Regions from separate parts of the Homo sapiens genome. Here region 2 is linked to region 1. The links come from fine-mapping of genetic effects on gene expression. A gene starts in region 1. The other region holds a variant in brackets. All regions are shown on one strand. Distances are between the middles of the regions. Region 1 holds the start of C10orf95-AS1 (C10orf95 antisense RNA 1). Region 2 overlaps C10orf95-AS1 (C10orf95 antisense RNA 1).

Evidence for each region.
Region 2: its variant is fine-mapped to the expression of C10orf95-AS1 in whole blood (TOPMed, PIP 0.98).

What each region holds. Positions count from the first base shown.
Region 1 is chr10:102,447,360-102,451,742 of GRCh38, reverse strand. C10orf95-AS1 (C10orf95 antisense RNA 1) reads right to left here and starts at 1,926. Exons shown (of 3, transcript NR_038938.1): 1 at 1,721-1,926; 2 at 1,413-1,556. C10orf95 (chromosome 10 open reading frame 95) reads left to right here and starts at 200. Exons shown (of 2, transcript NM_001363580.1): 1 at 200-357; 2 at 596-1,906. The coding sequence starts at 650. The coding sequence ends at 1,291. RefSeq lists an enhancer at 1-233 and silencers at 756-1,245, 1,286-1,365.
Region 2 is chr10:102,454,081-102,458,463 of GRCh38, reverse strand. It overlaps C10orf95-AS1 (C10orf95 antisense RNA 1), which reads right to left. Exons shown (of 3, transcript NR_038938.1): 3 at 2,171-3,127. Among named protein-coding and RNA genes, the nearest start is that of C10orf95, 4.7 kb to the right of the region's middle. RefSeq lists enhancers at 1,140-1,728, 1,729-2,316, 2,317-2,906, 2,907-3,494, 3,495-4,083. The variant G/C (reference allele first, on the strand shown) is at 2,604.

The sequences.
Region 1 (4,383 bases):
CCAGACAACTCGATTCAGTGTCTGGTGTGCAGGAGTTTCACTCAAATGTGAGGATAACCCAATCCACCTGCAGGCGCTGGGAGGCTGGGGTGTAGTGACTGGGAGCTAACCGGATTAGACAGCCATCAGTAATACTGTAGGAAGGGCATCCTTGTAGGGTGGGGCCACTACGACCAGTACGGCTCACCCAGGTGTAGACAGACGCTGGTAGCTCCTGGCCAGCTCAAGGTGTTTCCTTTTGCCTGGTAACCAGGAGGAGTGGCTGAGGCAGGGCATGGAGCGGAGCAACGCAGCTACAAAGTGCGGAGAGGAGCCCCGCTCTGGATCCCGCCGGCTCCCCAAGGCTGAAGGAGACAAGTGAGTGGGGAGTCACTGGGAAGAGCATCCCGGCGGAGGGCTTGAAAAGGCTCCTTATTGTCTGCTGGGAGCCTGAGGCTCTGCCCGACCTTGGGACAAGAGGCTAGGCGGGGAGCTGAATGTTCGATTTGGGATGAATTCCCCCAAAGCCATGAACCGGCGTCCCGGGGAACCGGCCCACAGGGACAGGAGGCGGTTAAGTAGAAAGTCTGTCTACATATCCCTTCCTCCGCCGCAGGTCTGGATCCGCAGGAGCCCCCAGTAAGAACAGCAGCCGCCTGGGGGGCCGACCATGTATGTGTACAGCTGGCCGCCGCCCAAACAGGGCGTCTGGCCGCCGCCGCCGCAGCTGCTCACCTGCACCTACCTGGCCGCCCCTCTGCTGCTACCCCCAGTCCAGGCCCACAGCTTCCGCAGCCGGCCCGGGAGCCTGCATGCGGGCGAGTGGGCGGCCCCACGGGAATACCACCGCTTCTACGGCCCCGCCGCGCCACCCGAGGCCGCGCCGCCCTGGTGGGCCTGCCCTCCGGCCTACGCCACGACCCTGCGCCGGCCCTGCGCCGCCGCCGGCATCTCGGGACTGTCGCTGCAGGCGCCCGCGGCGGTGGCCGAGAGCTGGGCGCCGTGGCCGGAGGGCGGGAGCCTGCAAACCGAGCTGCGCTGGGGCCGCGTGGAGCGCGCGCGGGGCCCCCCTCTGCAGCTACCGGACTTCGTGCGCCGGGAGCTGCGGCGCGCGTACGGCACCTACCCCCGCGCCGACGTGCGCGTCACCCAGCGCCGCGGCCAGTTCCTGCTGCAGGCGACGCCGCGCGTGCTCGAGCCCGACCACCGCGTGGAGTGGCGCGTGCGGCGCCGGCCCGACAGCGGCGACAGCAGCCCAGCCCGGGAAGCCGCGGAGCGCGGCCGCCCCAGGAAGAGCAAGGGCCTGAGCTGAAGCCGCCGCAAGGCCTAGGGGCGGGCCCGCGTGCACGCGCTTGGCTCTTTCCTGTGTGTGCCGCCGCCGACAGGCAGAAGTGAGCCCTCACCTGTGCGCGGGAGGCGGACGCGCTGCTCACCTGTCTTTTTGGCTTCTCCCATGACTGCCGGCCAGTTTCCTGCACTTGTTTCTCTCGCTTTATTGCTGGACGGTGGGAGAAGGGCAAGTGCAAGACGGAATCGAGGGCACCTCTGGGTGTTCTGTACCTCTTTTCTTCTTGCACCTTGGGAAGTGGAGGACGTGGGATGGAAGAAGGGCCTGGACCTCCCTCCTTCCTCCTCCCCACCTTCTCCTAAGGAGCTTGCCCTGCAGTAAGCCCCAACTTTCCCTTCCTCTTTTCCCTCTATCAGAGTCGTCGCCCACCCCCCTTTCCCACCGCTCCCCTACCCCCGCCTTCCTGCCAAGCCGAGGGCGACGGTGATCCCCAGCTTAGTAAGAAAAGTAAATAGGCCGGGCGCGGTAGCTCACGCCTGGAATCCCAGCACTGTGGGAGGCCGAGGCGGGCGGATCGCTTGAGCCCAGGAGACCAGGTTGGAGACCAGCCTAGGCAACATGGCGAAACCCTGTCTCTACAAAAAAAAAAAAAAAAAAAAATAGCCGGGTGTGCTGATACACTACTGTAGTCCCACCTACTCGGGAGGCGGAGATGGGAGGATCACCTGAGCCCGAGAGGGCGGGGCTGCAAGGAGCCGCGAACGCACCACTGCACTCCAGCCTGGGTGACTGAAACCCTGTCTCAAAAACAAAAACAAACAAAAAAAAAAACAATAAATAAATGAGCGAAGTCAAGTATACACTGCGAGATCATTGTTATGTTTTGGGGTGGTGTTTCTCCATCTGTTTATCTGTTTAATGGGAGTCTTACCGCCCACCCTGGGGTACAGGAAGGTAGGGTGGAGGGGCGTGAAGTTGAACTGGCCCTCTGGAGAAAGCATGTGTCTGATCGCTGGGCCCAGCTGCCCTCTTCACCATCTCCCTCCAAGTGTGCAGGCCAGCACCTTCTAACTCTCCTTGGTCCTTTGGCCCACCACCCTCCGAGATGCTGAGGGCATAAGCTCTATTTTTGAAGTGTGGAAGGCTTCACTAGGAGAGGGATGTCTGAGACCTGAGTTTAGGGCTGGCTCTGACATTTTCTACCTGTGTAACTTAAGGCTTTCTGACTCTCAGTTTCTTCATCAGTAAAAGAGGCGTAAAAGTAACCCAGCCTAATTGGAAGTTAAGATGAATGTCTCGGCCCGGCCTAATTGGAAGTTAAGATGAATGTCTCCGCCCGGCGCGGTGGCTCATGCCTGTAATCCCAGCACTTTGGGAGGCCAAGGTGGGCGGATCACGAGGTCAGGAGATCCAGACCATCCTGGATAACACGGTGAAACCCCGTCTCTACTAAAAATACAAAGAATTAGCCGGGCGAGGTGGTGGGCGCCTGTAGTCCCAGCTACTCGGGAGGCTGAGGCAGGAGAATGGCGTGAACCCGGGAGGCGGAGTTTGCAGTGAGCCGAGATGGCCCCACTGCACTCCAGCCTGGGCGACAGAGCGAGACTCCGTCTCAAAAAAAAAAAAAAAAAAAAAAGATGAATGTATCTTCTTGTCTCCCAATTCTTGCTAATAATCGTTAATTCTTAATAGGCTGAGGTTTGCAATATTCTAGGAGTTTTCTGGAATGTTAGGCCACATAGCCAATTTTAACTAGGATCTAGCCAGATTTGAGGCCCAGCTGTAGAAATTTCTTTTACTGAACTTCCATTTGTAACTGACCAATAGTTACCTGGGTATACACAGGTGAGTTATTGAAGCTGTAGGCCAGCTGATTGGGCACTGCTGTATTTGTGAGCTTCTTGGAGAAGTTGTCTCAAACCTCAGCCCTTGGAAAAGGTGTTTCTCCTGATCAGTGGTTTGCTTTTGTCTTTTAAGCGCTACGAATCTCATTACTGATCATATTTTTCTTTTGGTCCTGGTTTCCAAGGAGCTCAGAGCCAAATTTGCTTTGTGTCTTTTTTTTTTTTTTTTTTTGAAACAGAGTCTCACTCTGTTGTCCAGGCTGCAGTGTAGTGGCATGATCTCAGCTCACTGCAGCTGCAACCTCCACCTCCTGGTTCAAGCGCTTCTCCTGCCTCAGCCTTCCAAGTAGCTGGGATTATAGGTGTGTGCCACTACGCCCAGCTAATTTTTGTATTTTTAGTAGAGATGGGGTTTTCCCATGATGGCCAGGCTGGTGTCAAACTCCTGGCCTCAAGTGATCTGCCCGCCTTGGCCTCATTAAGTGCTGGGATCACAGGCATGGCCACCGTGCCCGGCCTGCTTAGTGTCTTTTATATAAAACCTGCATCCTGAACTCTGTTATCCCTAGTTTCACCTTATTTTTCCTTTGTAAAAAATTATAAAACACAAGAAGGTGAGGTGGCATAGTGTGATGGGTCTGCTGTGTGACCTTGGGCAAATTAATGTCCATGAAACAGTTTCCCCATCCCAAATGGGGATGATGATACAAAAACCTATCTCATGAGGTTATTGAGAAGATGCCATGACATCTGTGTTTCTACAGTGCACAGAAAGCATTTACCACGGTGCCTGGCATGTGTTAAGTGCTAAAATGTTAGTGTTTGTTTGTTTGTTTGTTCGTTTTGAGATGGAGTCTCAGTCTGTCACCCAGGCTGGAGTGCAGTGGCACAATCTTGGCTCACTGCAACCTCTGCCTCCTGGGTTCCAGCGATTCTCCTGCCTCAGCCTCCCAAGCAGGTGGGACTATAGGCATGCGCCACCACACCCGGCTAATTTTTTTTTTCTTTTTTTGAGGTGGAGTCTGGCTCTGTCTCCCAGGCTGGAGTGCAGTGGCATGATCTTGACTCACTGCAACCTCTGCCTCCTGGGATTCTCTGCCTCAGCCTCCCAAGTAGCTGGGATTACAGGAGCACGCCACCATGCCTGGCAAATTTTTTTGTATTTTTAGTATGGACAGGGTTTCACCATCTTGGCCAGGCTGGTCTTGAACTCCTGACCCCGTGATCCACCCACCTCAGCCTCCCAAAGTGCTGGGATTACAGGCATGAGCC
Region 2 (4,383 bases), 6.7 kb before region 1:
TTGCTGGCCAGGTGCGGTGGCTCACGCCTGTAATCCCAGAACTTTGGGAGGCCGAGGTGGGCGGATCACCTGAGGTAAGGAGTTTGAAACCAGTCTGGCCAATATGGTGAAACCCCATCTCTACTAAAAAACACACAAAAAATTAGCCAGGCCCGGTGATGGATGCCTGTAATCCCAGCTACTTAGGAGGCTGAGGCAGGAGAATCGCTTGAACCCGGGAGGCGGAGGTTGCAGTGAGCCAAGATCGCGCCACTGCACTCCAGCCTGTTGACAGAGCAAGACTCTGTCTCAAAAAATAAAAAAAACAAGATAGCTACCTGCAAGAGGCGTTGAGTGGGGTCCAAACAAGCTGGCAGCCAAGATGTCAATAGTGTGATAGGGACCAGATGGAGACAAGCCCAGGGTGGCAGCTGTTACGGTAATTTCACCTAGTACCTTTTCCTTCATGACTACTTCCACACCTCCCATGTCCAACCTGAAGAGAATATCCAGAATGGCCCATCCGAATTCACCATTCCTTAAACTTCCAATCTCCCTCCAGCATTTTCTACCTCCAGGACTGCCTTAACTGTCCATTGAGGTGGCCAAGGCGGAAACATGTGCATCCACCCTCCATCCTACGCACTTCATCAAAACCACCATCTTGGATCAAGTCCAGGTGAATCCTACTCCCATCTGTCTTTTCCATCCCTTGCTCCTGTTTGGTTCTCAGCTTTCATAAGCTAACACGAGAACCTCCTCCATGACTAGCTTCCACCCCCACGCTCTCTAATCTGTCCTCCATTTTGCCCTCAAGTGAGTTTCCGATCGCAAGCTTCCCTGAGCAAAAGCTTCTCAGGTTGCTATATACTGAAAATTTTCATGGCCAGATGCAGTGGCTCACATCTGTAATCCTAGCACCTTGGGAGTCTGAGGCATGAGGATCGCTTGAGCCCAGGAGGTGGAGACCAGCCTGGGCAACATAGTGAGACTCCATCTCTATAAAAAATTTCAAAAAATAAAAAAATCAGGCCGGGTGCAGTGGCTCACAACTGTAATCCCAGCACTTTAGGAGGCCAAGGTGGACGGATCACAAGGTCAGGATATCGAGACCATCCTGGCCAACATGGTGAAATCCCGTCTCTACTAAAATACAAAAAATTAGCCGAGCACGGTGGCACACGCCTATAGTCCCAGCAACTCGGGAGGCTGAGGCAGGGGAATCGCTTGAACCCGGGGGGTTGCAGTGAGCCGAGATCGCGCCACTGCACTCCAGCCTGGGCAACAGAGTGAGACTCTGTCTCAAAAAGTAGTAATAAAATAAAAAATTTTTAAAAATTATGTGGAATGTGGTGAGGCACACCTGTAGTTCCAACTACTCAGGAGGCTAAGGTGGGAGGATTGCTTGAGCCCAGCTATGACCACACCACTGCTCTCCAGCCTGGGTGAAAGAGACTCGTCTAAAAAAAAATTTTTTTTCATAATTCATAACAAAGTGCTGGCGGGGGGGGGGACGGTTAGGAAATATCCTGGGGTGTATCATTGGTGGAAGCAATAGACCATTTAAACTAGCTTAAATAAAGAAGGAATTTACTGGCCTGTGTAAGTTAAGTCCAGGACCCTTTCTGATTTCTGTCCTGGGAAAAGCAGAAAATCCCCTCCACCCAACAAGAAAATAAAGTCCTAGGCTTGACTTGCATTGGCCCATATCATGTCAAGGGCTAGCCCAAGTCAATCACTATGGCCAGAGGGATGGCTGTGCTGAAAGGCTTAGCCCTAAATCACCCAAACCTAAGGATACAGTAGATTCAACTCCACCAGAACTACTTTCCTGAGAATAGATAAGGTGTGGGACTTCAAAATACTGGGGACTGGCACTGGAATCAGGGTGAACAAATACTGAGAAACTCACAGCTTGGCCATTATTTTTCTCATTTTGCCTGAAAATTTCCTTCCCAGGCTCCACTTGAGCTTCGTCTTGCTTGCTCCCCACTCTCCACCCAGAAGAGATGGAAAACCTGGCCAGTGCCATGGGTCCACTACTGAACTCCAGGCTGGGGTGTGGTCAGTCCATGGATAGCCGTGAATACTCCCAGGTGCTGGGATTTTAGGACAGGGACGAAGTTATAAACAGGAGCAGGGAGGTGTATTAGTTTCCTACTGATGTTGTAACAAATCACCACAAACTTGGTGGCTGAAAACAAGACAAGTTTATTTTCTTACAGTCCTGGAAGTCAGAAATCTGAAATGGCTCACTGACAAGGGGTTGGCAGGACCGCATCCCTTCTGGAGGCTCCAGGGGAGAATCCATTTTCTTGCTTTTTTCAGCTCCCAGAGCCTGCCTGCATTCCCTGGCTCATGACCGTCTTCCGTATTCAAAGCCGGTGATGGCTGGTTAAGTCTTTCAGTCATTGCATCACTCTGCCTCTGACTCAGCCACCTCACTATTCCACAGTTAAGGACCCTTGTGATTACATTGGGTCCACCCAGATAATCCAGGATCATCTCCTTATCTTAAGGTCAGCCCATTAGCAACCTTACTGCCATCTGCAACCTTACTTCTCCCTGGTCATGTAATATAACATATTCGCAGGTTTCCGGGGTGACATTATGAACATTTTGGG[G/C]GGGGAATGTCTTTTAAATTCTCTCATTCTGGAACCAGTCCTTACAGCAGAGAGAGGGCGAGGTTCCTAAGGAGTTTTGTAATGGGGCCCTTGAGATTTCAGCACCCCAGCATTTTAATTTTTTCCTGAGCAATTAATACTTAAAATTTTAAAGTTTTTTGTATATATTTGTGGGGTATATATGATGTTTTGATACAAGCATGCAATGTGAACTAATCACATAATGGAGAATGGAGTGCCCCCCAGCATTTTTAGTGACTAAAAAAATGAGAATTCTGATCACAGGCCAGGCACGGTGGCTCAAGCCTATAATCCCAGTACTTTGGGAAGCCAAGGCAGGATGATCACCTGAGCCCAGGAGTTCAAGACCAGCCTGGGTAACATAGTGGGATCTCATCTCTACAAAAATTAGTCGGGTGTGGTTGGTGCACACCTGTGGTCCTAGCTACTCAGGAAGCTGAGGTAGGAGGATCACTTGAGCCCAGATCAAGGTTGCAGTGAGCCCTGGTCATGCCACTGAACTCCTGTGGGGAAAAGAAAGAGAGATCAGATTGTTACTGTGTCTGTGTAGAAAAAAGTAGACATAGGAGACTCCATTTTGTTCTGTAAGAAAAATTCTTCTGCCTTAAGATGCTGTTAATCTGTAACCCTACCCCCAACCCTGTGCTCCCTGAGACATGTGCTGTGTCAACTCAGGGTTAAATGGCTTAAGGGCTGTGCAAGGTGTGCTTTGTTAAACAAATGCTTGAAGGCAGCATGCTTGTTAAGAGTCATCACCACTCCCTAATCTCAAGTACCCAGGGACAAAAAACACTGCGGAAGGCCGCAGGGACCTCTGCCTAGGAAAGCCAGGTATTGTCCAAGGTTTCTCCCTATGTGATAGCCTGAGATTTGGCCTCGTGGGAAGGGAAAGACCTGACCGTCCCCCAGCCCGACACCCGTAAAGGGTCTGTGCTGAGGAGGATTAGTAAAAGAGGAAGGAATGCCTCGTTGCAGTTCAGACAAGAGGAAGGCATCTGTCTCCTGCTCATCCCTGGGCAATGGAACGTCTCGGTGTAAAACCCGATTGTATATTCCATCTGCTGAGATAGGGGAAAACCGCCTTAGGGCTGGAGGTGGGACATGCGGGCAGCAATACTGCTCTTCAAGGCATTGGGATGTTTATGTGTATACATATCTAAAGCACAGCACTTAATTCTTTACCTTATGATGCAGAGACCTTTGTTCACTGTTTACCTGCTGACCTTCTCTCCACTATTATCCTATGACCCTGCCACATCCCCCTCTCCGAGAAACACCCAATAATGATCAATAAATACTAAGGGAACTCAGAGGCTGGGGGGATCCTCCGTGTGCTGAACGCCGGTCCCATGGGCCCCCTTTTTTCTTTCTCTATACTTTGTCTCTGTGTCTCTTTCTTTTCCAAGTCTCTCGTTCCACCTAACGAGAAAAACCCACAGGTGTGGAGGGGCAACCCACCCCTTCACACTCCAGCCTGGGTGACAGAATGAGACCTTGTCAAAAAGAAAAAAAAAAAGAAAAAAAATTCTGATCAGGCCGATGCTTGCTTGCACGTGCTAACCACTCACTTTTTGCCCAATATTCCTTGTTCCCACAATATAAACTGCTGATGTGCTGTTTCTTGGTCAAGCAGGAAGAGGTAACTTTGTGGTCATGAAAAAAAATTGCAGGCCAGGCACAGTGGCTCATGCCTGTAATCCCAGCACTTTGGGAGGCCGAGGTGGGTGAATCACCCGAGGTCTGGAGTTCAAGACCAGCT